Linked DNA regions of Homo sapiens. The protein of the gene in region 3 purifies or fractionates together with the protein of the main gene of each other region. This does not show direct contact. Each region holds a gene or a part of one and is shown on either strand. Other genes may lie near its edges.

Evidence for each region.
Region 1: the proteins of ADI1 (region 3) and C11orf54 fractionate together in Homo sapiens (co-fractionation; one large-scale study listed by BioGRID). This does not show direct contact.
Region 2: the proteins of ADI1 (region 3) and LGALSL purify together in Homo sapiens (affinity purification with mass spectrometry; one large-scale study listed by BioGRID and IntAct). This does not show direct contact.

Annotation. Positions count from the first base shown.
Region 1 is NC_000011.10:93,761,937-93,765,376, forward strand, and holds the end of C11orf54 (ester hydrolase C11orf54), read left to right. Parts: 3' UTR 1-2,813; downstream 2,814-3,440. UniProt on the Homo sapiens protein: Exhibits ester hydrolase activity on the substrate p-nitrophenyl acetate, in vitro. Regulates DNA damage and repair by regulating HIF1A degradation via chaperone-mediated autophagy (CMA).
Region 2 is NC_000002.12:64,452,787-64,456,997, forward strand, and holds the start of LGALSL (galectin-related protein), read left to right. Parts: upstream 1-1,375; 5' UTR 1,376-1,759; coding exon 1,760-1,795; exon of another isoform or gene 1,796-2,092; intron 2,093-2,557; coding exon 2,558-2,629; intron 2,630-2,802; coding exon 2,803-2,891; intron 2,892-3,501; coding exon 3,502-3,679; intron 3,680-4,211. UniProt on the Homo sapiens protein: Does not bind lactose, and may not bind carbohydrates.
Region 3 is NC_000002.12:3,512,916-3,516,566, forward strand, and holds part of ADI1 (acireductone dioxygenase), read right to left. Parts: exon of another isoform or gene 1,995-3,651; coding exon of another isoform or gene 1,893-1,994; intron 1,062-1,892; coding exon 942-1,061; intron 1-941. UniProt on the Homo sapiens protein: Catalyzes 2 different reactions between oxygen and the acireductone 1,2-dihydroxy-3-keto-5-methylthiopentene (DHK-MTPene) depending upon the metal bound in the active site.

The DNA.
Region 1 (3,440 bases), on a different chromosome or scaffold from region 3:
CACTACTTAAATCCCATTTTTTTCACTTCATATGAAAGAACATATTGATAGTATATTCTATATTATTTCATAGATCTGTCTGAAAGAGATTGGGAACAAAAATATCTAATTGAGATATTCTTTAATTTTTTACATAGCAGCTTTATTTTTTTTATTCTGTAGTATCAGCGAAATCAGTCATGTTTATACCTTGAATATAAATATCAGGAATCATGCAATTATTTCTACTATGTATTTAGTAGTATCTTATATTTGTATAACATTATTACATTTTGCAAATTAGTATCACAACTGCTAAGTAGATGTTTCTGAGTATTAGAAAAATCAGTGTTATTACCTGCAGGATATTAAAAAACATTTGAAAAAGAGAAAAAGAAAAATCAGTGTTTAGAAATGTTGATAGTTATTGAATCTTTGAATTGAATTTTAAAAATCCATTCTAGTAATCAGAGTATACTTTTTTTATAGAACAAGGTGGCAGGTGGGGAGCCCTTTACCCTTCTGGTGAAGTTAAACCATAGAAGTTTACAATTTGCCTTTCACAAACATTAGCAGTCCGGGCATGGTGGCTGAAGCCTGTGATCCCAGCATGTTGGGAGGCCGAGTGGGAGGATTGCCTGAGCCTAGGAGTTTAAACCAGCCTGGGCACCATGGTGAGACCCCATCTCTATTATTTAAAATGTTTCTTAAATAAAAAAAACACAAACATTAGCAACTAGTTGGCTAGCCATAATTCCTCCCTTGTTTCGATTGCCAGTTAGAAGCAATTTTTATTTCACTGGTTATTTGCAAGAGAAGGGGTAAAAAAACAGCATCAGAGTGCAACACTGAAGTGAGCTTACTTTAATTTGTAAGTGAAGCTGTTGCTGAACATGACCACTATCGTTGCTGAAATATAAAATTATACTCACTGATTGTAATGGTTGAAATTTTCCTGAATAATCATTAGCCAAAGATCAACTCTCTAATGGTGCTAATGGCAATCTAGCTAATGTGCAAATTTAGGAAGTCTTCAGTACTAAGTACATAATTTTCAAATAATATTTTTTAATTGTCTACTTTGGATGTTAGCTATGTCTTGTGAGTATAAATTCCAATTTTAAGCACTATTTTGATGCAAAAAAATGAATAAAAAATTTAATTTATGATATGTTTGTAATATCTTACCTCCAGACAAAATAATATTAATAGTCTATCATTTAACAAATATGTATTGAACACCTACCCTTCTCTCTGGAGTGTACACTTCATGTGGGCAAGGGCCTTGTTCACGACTGTAGCACTAGTGCCTTTAACTGCTAGCAAAGTAGCCACTCGGATGATTATACCAAACACTTTACTAAAGCTGGGGATCTGTCTAGTGGGGAAGACAAACAATAAATATATAATATGTCAGGTGGTATTAAATGCTATGAAAAGAAAGGAGTAGATGGACTGTAAAGGAGGATGCTATTTTTTTGTGGCCATCCCGCACTGAGACAGGATGCATTCCACACTCAAAATTTGGTTCACATGTCCAGACTGATAGCCAAGTTCAGTGGCTCACGCCTGTAATCCTAGTACTTAGGGAGACCAAGGCAGGAGGATCACTTGAGGCCAGGAGTTCAAGGCCAGCCTGGGCAACAGAGAGAGACCCCCATCTCTGCAAAAAAAGAAAAAAAATTTTTTAATTATCTGGGCATGGTTGTGCACACCTGTTGTCCCAGCTGCTCAGGAGGCTGAGGCACGAGAATCACTTGAGCCCAGAAGTTGGAGGCTACAGTGAGCTATGATTGTTTCATTGCACTGTAGCCTGGGCAACACAGTGAGACCCTGTCTCAAAAAGAAAAAAAAAATGACTGATGAAGCCACACACACACCAACAGAGTATGAAAGGGTTGTTACTCACATAATGAAGCTTTCTGGGGAAAGCAGGGCAGCTCCTAAGCAGGATTTGACAACAGGGAAGGAGACTGACTTGGAGTTTTTTGGTGGTTAGGGAGTAGGGCCAGAGTGATGTTTCTTGCATGTGGTTTGAATTTCCCACTGGTATCAAAGAAGGAAACACCCAGGCTTGCTTGCTTTATTTTTTTAAAGAGATGGTGTCTCACTATGTTGCCCAGGCTGGGCTCAAGTCATCTTCCTGCCTCGGCCTCCCAAAGTGCTGGGATTACAGGCATGGGCCACCATGTCTGGCGAGCACCCAGGCTTTCTTAGCTTGCCAGAGGTGTAGGGCATAAGGGGACGAGGGGTGGGATAAGGCTTAAAAGCCACCAGCAGTCAAACATAAATTAAGTCAGATTCTTAATTACAGATTTCAGATCTGATTTCAGATCAGAGCTTATTTCAGGTCAGATTCCAGGTGTAGAGATCATCTGAAGCAGTCCTGGGCCTCTTCACACTACAGATACCAACACTGCCTTTACTCTTCCATTAGTGTCCTCCAAAATGGGGTGCATGGACAGCAGGTACACATGACCTTCCAAGGGGTGTGGGAATATTAGAACATCTATTTATATATTTTATTTCGTCCTTTTAAGTTTCTGTGGTTTTGTGTACATTTCTTACGTTAGGGATTTCAGTTCAAAATTGTATTGCTGATAGACACAATTCAAAAAGCTTGGAGACCAGGTACATTCACACCATCTAATAGAGATGGGGGAAAAGATCAAAATGCTTTTCTTTTTAAATTTTTTCTTAGTTTTCTTTCTTTATAGAGACAGAGTTTCGCCGTGTTGGCCAGGCTGTTCTCGAACTCCTGGCCTCAAGTGATCTGCCCGTCTCAGCCTCTCAAATTGCTGGGATTACAGGCATGAGGCACTGCACCTCACCCAAAGTGCTCTTCTTACTCTTACATTCACTCAGTATAACACAGAAAGCTTCTGTGACCAGATGCATGGGGGTTTTTCCCACACACCAAGCAATTCTCCAGCAGACATCAGCTGGGGGTCCTATAATTTAATTCAATTCTAACACTATTTACTTGGAGATAGCGTCAGATCCCACAGTTTAATGGTTCAATCCTCCAAGACTGCCTCCCACTTCCGATGCCAATCACAAGCTTCAGGTTGTGACCTGTACTTTTGACCAACCCACTGTAAATCGGGGTCTCTATGCCTACCTCTTCAGGTTTGATTAATTTGCTTAGAGCAGATCACTGAACCCAGGGAAACACTTTACTTATATTTTCCAGTTTATTAATAAAGGATATAATAAAGTATACAGATGAACAGCCAGATGGAAGAGATGCATATGGAAAGGCCAGCAGAAGTCCAGAGCTTCCACACCGTTTCTGGGTGCCCCACCTTCTAGGCATGTCCACCTGTTCAGCAATTTGGAAGCTATCCAAACCCTTTTCTTTTGGACTTTGGCTTTGTTTTTGTTTTTGAGACAGGTTCTCACTCTGTCACCCAGGCTGGAGTGCAGTGGCATGATCTCTGCTCACTGAAACCTCTGCCTCC
Region 2 (4,211 bases), about 61 Mb from region 3:
GAAATTGATACATACTAAAGTATGCTTTCAAATGTCAATCATTTCCTATAAGTGCCTAACATTTTAAAGTAATAAAGTGTGATTTTGAGCTAAGACTGGTAAACAAAGTGTGCTGCAGCCACAAGCGTACTGCGCTTTAGCCTCTATCTAGTTCAAGAACCACTTCCAGAGGATATGAGTGAGGCTTACAGGCGTGTGCAGGTAATTCTCCCTGCTCAACTGAGATTACCATCATTAGCTCTGGTCCATAAAGGGAAAACTAAGACACAAAAGCCACATTGATGTTCTAGGCCACACAGCCAATTGCAGTGACTAGAAGAAAGAAGCCTCCCCGGGCGGCGAAGGTTGCAGTGAGCTGAGATCGCGCCACTGCACTCCAGCCTGGGCCACAGAGGGAGACTCCGTCTCAATTTAAAAAAAAAAAAAAAAAAAAAAAAAGGAGCCTCTGAGGGGCCCTCTGGGACTGCAGTAGGTCACACATGCTCCCTGCTTATTAGCATAGAACGCCCCGGTGATTCATGCAATGGAATGTTTCAGCCAAGGATGTCACCTAATAGAGGATATGTTGATACAGCTTTATCTGAGAAGTTACATAATCGTCCTAGTGTGGAAATGCCATAAAGGAATTTCTGGCTTGAATAAAAGAGGTGTGTATCCCCTGGGAAGTACTCCACAAAGGGTATGAGGAGATTTTCAGTGAGAAGCTGACTACCCCAGACTGGGCAAGTGACTTGTTAAAAACAGGGCTCAATGGAGGCTCTCTGAGGACAGTGACTGCGCCCACTTTGATTTGGTAAGGCTTTGACTCCTGCTCGAGAGAGTCCAGGGACCCCTAGACCTGCCTGTCCTTCCACAGGGAAGAGCGACCTTTCTGTATCTAGCCTCCTGGGATAGAAAGGTCCCTACCTTGAGTCCTCTCTGCTTCGTTCTTTCAGGTCACACATTTATTTCTGCAAGCCTTCAGACCTTCCATTCTCTTTCTGCCCTAGAGAGCAGAATGAATCCTTCCCCCGATTTTGTTGGAATTCTCTGAAAGAAATCCTGCCAAGTCTCCCACTCTGGAATACCACCCCCAGCACCCAATCTTCCCTCGACCTCGCCTCCCATCGCCCCACCAGCGCCCAGGACGTGGCAGGAGGAAGGAGGCTGGAGGGAGGGGCGCGGGTGGCACGAGCACCTGTCACCTGACCGGCTCGGGCCCTCACTTCTCCAGCCCCGGCCCTGCCCACCCTCTGGCCGGTGAGAGCCGACAGGGCCCCCGCCCTCCCGGACCCGGACAGGCCCGTCCCTCCCGCCCCGGCCTCCGCCACCGTCCAATGGCCGAGGGGCAGGGCCCGCTGAGCAAGCCGCGGCAGCCCCGCCGGGTCCCCGCCCTGTTCCCGGTTCCCGAGCCGGGCCCCGGAGGCCTTTAAATGCTGCCCAGGGCCGACGCGGCACGGCCCTCGCCACTTTTCTTGGTCGGGCAGCGGCAGCGGCAGCGGCAGCAAGCAGCCCCGTCGGCCCGGGTCCGGGGCCGTTCTGGGCCGCGGCAAGCACCTTCGCCCTCCCAGCTCGCGCTGCCTCCCTCCCCTCCCCTCCTCCCAGGCTCTGCCTGCCAGGTCGGCGCCGGGCCCCGGGCGCGCGCGCGCGCGCCCCCTCGTGTGTGCGCGCGCCCGCCGCCAGCTCGGACCCGCGCCCCCGCCCCCGCCCCGCGCAGGACAGCCCCGGGATCCCCGCCCGCGCGCCGCGTCCCACGTACCCCGCCGCGCCGGGCAAGAAGATGGCGGGATCAGTGGCCGACAGCGATGCCGTGGTGGTGAGTGTGGCAGGGCGCGCGCGAGGCGCCCCTCCCCGCCGTCCCGCACTCCGCCGCCGCCTGCTCCAGCAGTGCTGGGGTGCTGAGCAGCCGCAGGCCCGGCCGGCGCCCGGCGCGTGGGAAGGCGCCCGGTACCTGTTAGCAGCCGCTGGCTGCGCGCGGCCGGTGTTAGGGGCTGGAGAGGCTCCCGGGCTGCGGGGCTCTGGGCTGGGGAGGGAGTTTGGGGAGGATGGCGGGTAGGGACGCCCGACAGCCCCCTCTGTGCCGTGCAACCGCCAGCCAGGTGTGCGCGTGGGTGAGTGTGTCCGGGGCGCGCGCCCCGCCACCGCCCCCGACGTACCGGGGATTCCCCCTTGGAAATGGGTCGGCGCCCGGGGCTCCCGAGAGAAGTTGAGCACGGCCGCTGCACTTCAGTCACGTCCCGAAGGACAGGCCTGGCCCACCGCGCTTCCAGAAGCGTTTACGGTTGGAGAGGGGCCTGCCCTCCTCCGGCGTGGGGCTCTGGCTCTTCGGTGGACCTCGACCTTGATTTTGATCTGGATCTGAAGGGTCTGCGGATCTTCAGAGGCTTAACTACCGGGTGGAAAGGATGGGTTTTGTTCGGGGGTGATGAGATTATCTAAGAGACGGTGAAGAGGCATCATCTGCAGACACTGTGTGCATGTGGAAGGCTGCTGGATTCCACCACATCTGTGTGGGTTCTTCCTCCAGCCCCCCAAAAAAGAGCCCATGGAAAGCCAATCTGTGTACTTCTATTTTTAGAAACTAGATGATGGCCATTTAAACAACTCTTTGAGCTCTCCAGTTCAAGCGGACGTGTACTTCCCACGACTGGTAAATGATTTTGCTCTGTGTCTCTGCCTGTACCTTCCTCCTTTCTCATTGCTTTTTAAAATTTTATTCATTTGTTTATTGCATTTTCCAGTGGGTCAGGCCTTCAGGGTCTGAGGTCTTGGCTTTTCCCTAACAGGCTGTAAAATTCATTTTTCTTCTCCCACCCTTTTCAGATAGTTCCATTTTGTGGGCACATTAAAGGTGGCATGAGACCAGGCAAGAAGGTGTTAGTGATGGGCATCGTAGACCTCAACCCAGAGAGGTAAGGCAGAGTCTTTGTCAGGACAGAACTATCAGGCTGTGGCTGAGCCCTGCCCACTTCTGTTGTGGTTTAGCACTCCTCTTCCTCTCCTTGTGGACAGTGTTGCTAGTTGCCAGTGCCAAGAAAGTACCATGTTCCCATGAAACGAATATGTATGAATCCCAGCCATCATTTCTCCAGACAGCTATTTATATCAGAGATTATAAATATAGGCCCACATTTTCTCTTTGACCCTTAGGGAGGCCAGAGGATTTTTTTTTTTTTTTTTAATGGTTTTGAAACATGGTGCCAGGAGCAAGAACTATCAAGATGAATAAGAACCCAACTTAACATTATTTCCCCTGGTCAATTTCTGTGGCTGTTTTTGAGAATTCCGAAGTGGAATTCTCTAATTTTAGTCATTTTCAACACCAAAGTTTTCACCAGAGCTTGCTTTAGGTAACAAAATAAGCTGGTTTGACTTACTTCTCCATAATCTAACCTCTCTTGAAGAGTAGTGGCCTCTTAAAAATGGACAAACCCAGAGGAGGAAGAAGAAATATAAGCACTTGGGTCATTTTGAAATGTTTTTATATCCAACCCTTAATCAGTGGGATGATTTTCTTTTCAGCTTTGCAATCAGCTTGACCTGTGGGGACTCAGAAGACCCTCCTGCCGATGTGGCAATCGAACTCAAAGCTGTGTTCACAGATCGGCAGCTACTCAGAAATTCTTGTATATCTGGGGAGAGGGGTGAAGAACAGTCAGCAATCCCTTACTTTCCATTCATTCCAGACCAGCCATTCAGGGTGAGTACCTCGAGTGCCTCGGCTCCAGCCACTGGCAGGCTGATAATGTTCGACTTACCTAGTGTGTGCCAAGAACACTTGAAGCAGCCAGAATTTCTGCATGTCCAGGAAATTTGTCACCCAATGGTGAAAAAAAAAGATCAAAAGAGCTCTGTTTGCTGATATAAATTAACACTTGCCATAGTATCTTCTTAGTTCTATTCAGGTCATACATTTAAATAGACCCATATTTACATGTCCAAATTGTTAAGAATAAGTAACTTTTCTATGTAGTACCCAACATATAGTAGATACCTACCCCCAAATATCTGATTGATTAATCAATACTAAGTACCCACTTATTAAATATTAATATTAATAAGGTTGAGAGCTAATAAGTAGCTCTTTTATTTGTATGACATTTTAAAGAATATGATGATGATCATTTCATTTTCTCTTGTTCCCTTTGCTAATGAGGCCATGTTCGTGTCCTTGTTTCCCCCTCTGGATTAATTAGCCTCAGTCTATTTCATGGTTACAGGCTGTGTGGCTG
Region 3 (3,651 bases):
CCCTGCAAAGCCACAGGGACAGAGCTGCCTAAGGCCTTGGGAGCCCATTCCTTGCACCAGTGTGCCCTAGATGTGGGACATGGAGTCAAAGGGTATTATTTTGGAGCTTTAAGATTTAGTGGCTGCCCTGCTGAGTTTTGAACTTTCATGGGTCCTGTAGCTCCTTTCTTTTGACCAATTTCCCCCTTTTGGAATGAGAATATTTACCTAATGCCTTTACCCGCTTTGTATCTTGGGAGTAACTAACTTGTTTTGATTTTGCAGGCTCATAGGTAAAAGGAGATGAGTATCAGATGAGACTTTGGACTTGAACTTGGGACTTTTAAGTTAATGCTAGAGGAAGTTAAGACTTTGGGGGACTATTGGGAAGAGATTATTGTATTTTGAAATTCAAGAAGGGCATGAGATTTGGGAGGGGCCGGGGCAGAATAATACAGTTTAGATTTGTGTCTCCACCCAAATTTCATATTGAAATGTAATCCCCAGTATTGAAAGTGGGACCTGGTGGGAGGTGACTGGATCATGAGGGTGGATTTCTCATGAATAGCTTAGCACTATCTTCTTGGTGCTATCCTCACTACAGTGAGTAACTTCTTGTGAGATCTGGTCATTTAAAACAGTGTGGCACCTTGCTCTCTCTTTCATTCCCACTCCTGTTATGTGAGAAGCCTGCTCCCTCTTTGCCTTCTGCCATGTAAGCTTCCTGAGGCCTCCCCAGAAGCAGATGGTGGTGACAGGAAGCACATGCTTCCTGTAGAGCCTGCAGAACTGTGGGCCAATTAAATCTCTTTTCTTATAAATTACACAGTTTCAGGTATTTATTTATAGCAAAGCAAGAATGGCCTCATACAGACATTAAAAGAAAAAAGAAAGAAAATATTGCGTCTATTAGTAGTGAATATAATGATACTTCTTTTCCAGGTAATCCAGGGCTCCCTTACCTTTTCTTCATAATTTGGTAGTTTATCTTTGCATATGGTTATGATGTCCATCCAGGAGTAGTTCCTCTCTCTTCGGATCTTTTCTAATTCTGGATCATTCTCATATTTGTCAGCATCCAGCTAAAAGAGTTAACCCACCAAAAACAAGAGCTCAGATTAACAAGGAGATGTAGAAACATTCTCTTTCTGGATCTCCAATATGATTTTATACTCCAAATTTATCATTTGTTATTTTTTCAACCCTCAACTAACTCTCTTCATCTCCTCTAGCCATTTAATGGATTTTCCATTCTCCAAAACACCAGCTATACATACAATGGAGTTCTGTTTGATTTCTGCCTCCCTTCTCTGCAACAGTCCATCCCAGGGGATTCTTTTTCCCATTTTGAGATGGTAGTCTCACCACCTCAGGCCTTTCTGTCCACTCCACAGGTCCCTCACTGTGCCCTGTTTCTCTGCCACCATCCCACTCATGAGTCTCATTGATCCTCAATGCCATCTCTTTGGTCAGTTTGTTTCCATGAGCCAAAACATTGTATGCTCTCACAGCTTGCAAATAAAACTCAAGTTAATTAAACTGGAATGAGAAACCTTCTATCATCTGGCCCCAGCTGACTTTTCTACTTCTATCTGTTCCCATCTCCTACTTTTTAAAGAACTCTACATTCTAAACCAAATAGGATGATCGGCTATCTTAAAAATATTTGATATTTCACATCCCCACAACCTTGCTCATGACAGCTTTCTATGCCTAAAATTCCCATTCAACATTTTCATTTATCACAATCCTATCTCTATTAAGGTTCAGTTTTACTGTTCCTTCCTGACGAAGCACTTCCCTGATGAAGCTCCAGGCAGAATTCATCTGAACTCTTATTTAAAACTACTGGCAGTGAATCTAGCACACTTTATGTTTTGCAATAAACTGCACATTATATCATCACTACTTACTGAACAACAAACTCCAGTGTTGCAGGAAGTCAGGGACCCCGAATGGAGGGACCGGCTGGAGCCATGGCAGAGGAACATAAGTTTTGAAGATTTCACGGACATCTATCAGTTCTCAAATAATACTTTTATAATTTATTATGCCTGTCTTTAATCTCTTAATCCTGTTATCTTCGTAAGCTGAGGATGTATGTCACCTCAGGACCACTGTGATAATTGTGTTAACTGTACAAATTGATTGTAAAACATGTGTGTTTGAACAATATGAAATCAGTACACCTTAAAAAATAAAATAACAGCGATTTTTAGGGAACAAGGGAAGACAACCATAAGGTTTGACTGCCTGCAGGGTCAGGCAAAAACACCCATATTTTTCTTCTTGCAGAGAGCCTATAAATGGGCGTGCAAGTAGAGAAGGTATCACTAAATTCTTTTCCTAGGAAGGAATATTAATATTAATACTCTGGGGAAGGAATGCATTTCTGGGGGGAGGTCTATAAACAGCTGCTCTGGGAATGTCTGTCTTATGCGGTTGAGATAAGGACTGAGATACGCCCTGGTCTTCTGCAGTACCCTCAGGCTTACTAAGGTGGGGAAAAACTCCACCCTGGTAAATTTGTGGTCAGACCAGTTCTCTGCTCTCGAACCCTGTTTTCTGTTATTTAAGATGTTTATCAAGACAATATGTGCAGCACTGAACATAGATCTTTATCAGTGGTTCTGCTTTTGCCCTTTGCCCTGTGATCTTTGTTGGACCCTTATCAGTGGTTCTGCTTTTGCCCTTTGTCCTGTTCCCTCAGAAGCATGTGATCTTTGTTAGACCCTTATTAGTAGTTCTGCTTTTTGCCCTTTGAAGCCTGTGATATTTGTACCTACTCCCTGTTCTTACACCCCCTCCCCTTTTGAAACCCTTAATAAAAACTTGCTGGTCTGAGACTCAGGCGGGCATCACGGTCCTACCGATATGTGATGTCACCCCTGGCGGCCCAGCTGTAAAATTCCTCTCTTTATACTGTCTCTCTTTATTTCTCAGCTGGCCGACACTTATGGAAAATGGAACCTATGTTGAAATATTGGGGGTGGGTTCCCCCGATACTCCAGAACATATTAAAGTACTAGTCATCAATACGTTATTTTCTACAAAGTTGACTCTAAAACTTAGCCTATCCACTGCATGATATGCACAGTACTATTTGCTATGGTCTGAATGTGTCCATATTATGACACATAATATGTAATATGACACATTATATGACACGTGTCATAAGTTTAAATATACGAATGTTGAAACTTAACACAAATGTGATAGTATTAAGGGGTGGGACCTTTAGGATGTGATTAAGTCATGAGGGCAAGCCCTCATTTATAGGATTAGTGGCCTTGTAAGAGAGATGGAGCTGGGCACTGTGGCTCACACCTATAATCCCAGAACTTTGGGAGGCCAAGGTGGGCAGATCACCTGAGGTCAGGGGTTCAAGACCAGCCTGTCCAACATGGTGAAACCCCATCTCTACTAAAAATACAAAAATTAGCCAGGCATGGTGGTCCACGCCTGTGATCCCAGCTACTCGGGAGGCTGAGGCAGGAGAATCACTTGAATCCAGGAGGCAGAGGTTGCAGTGAGCCAAGACTGCGCTACCAGCCTGGGTGACAGAGCGAGGCTCCATCTCAAAAAAAAAAAAAAAAAAAAAAAAGAGCAAGAGAGATGTAAGAGAGCAGTTTGCCCCTTCCACCACATGAGGACAGAGCAAGGAAATGGCCG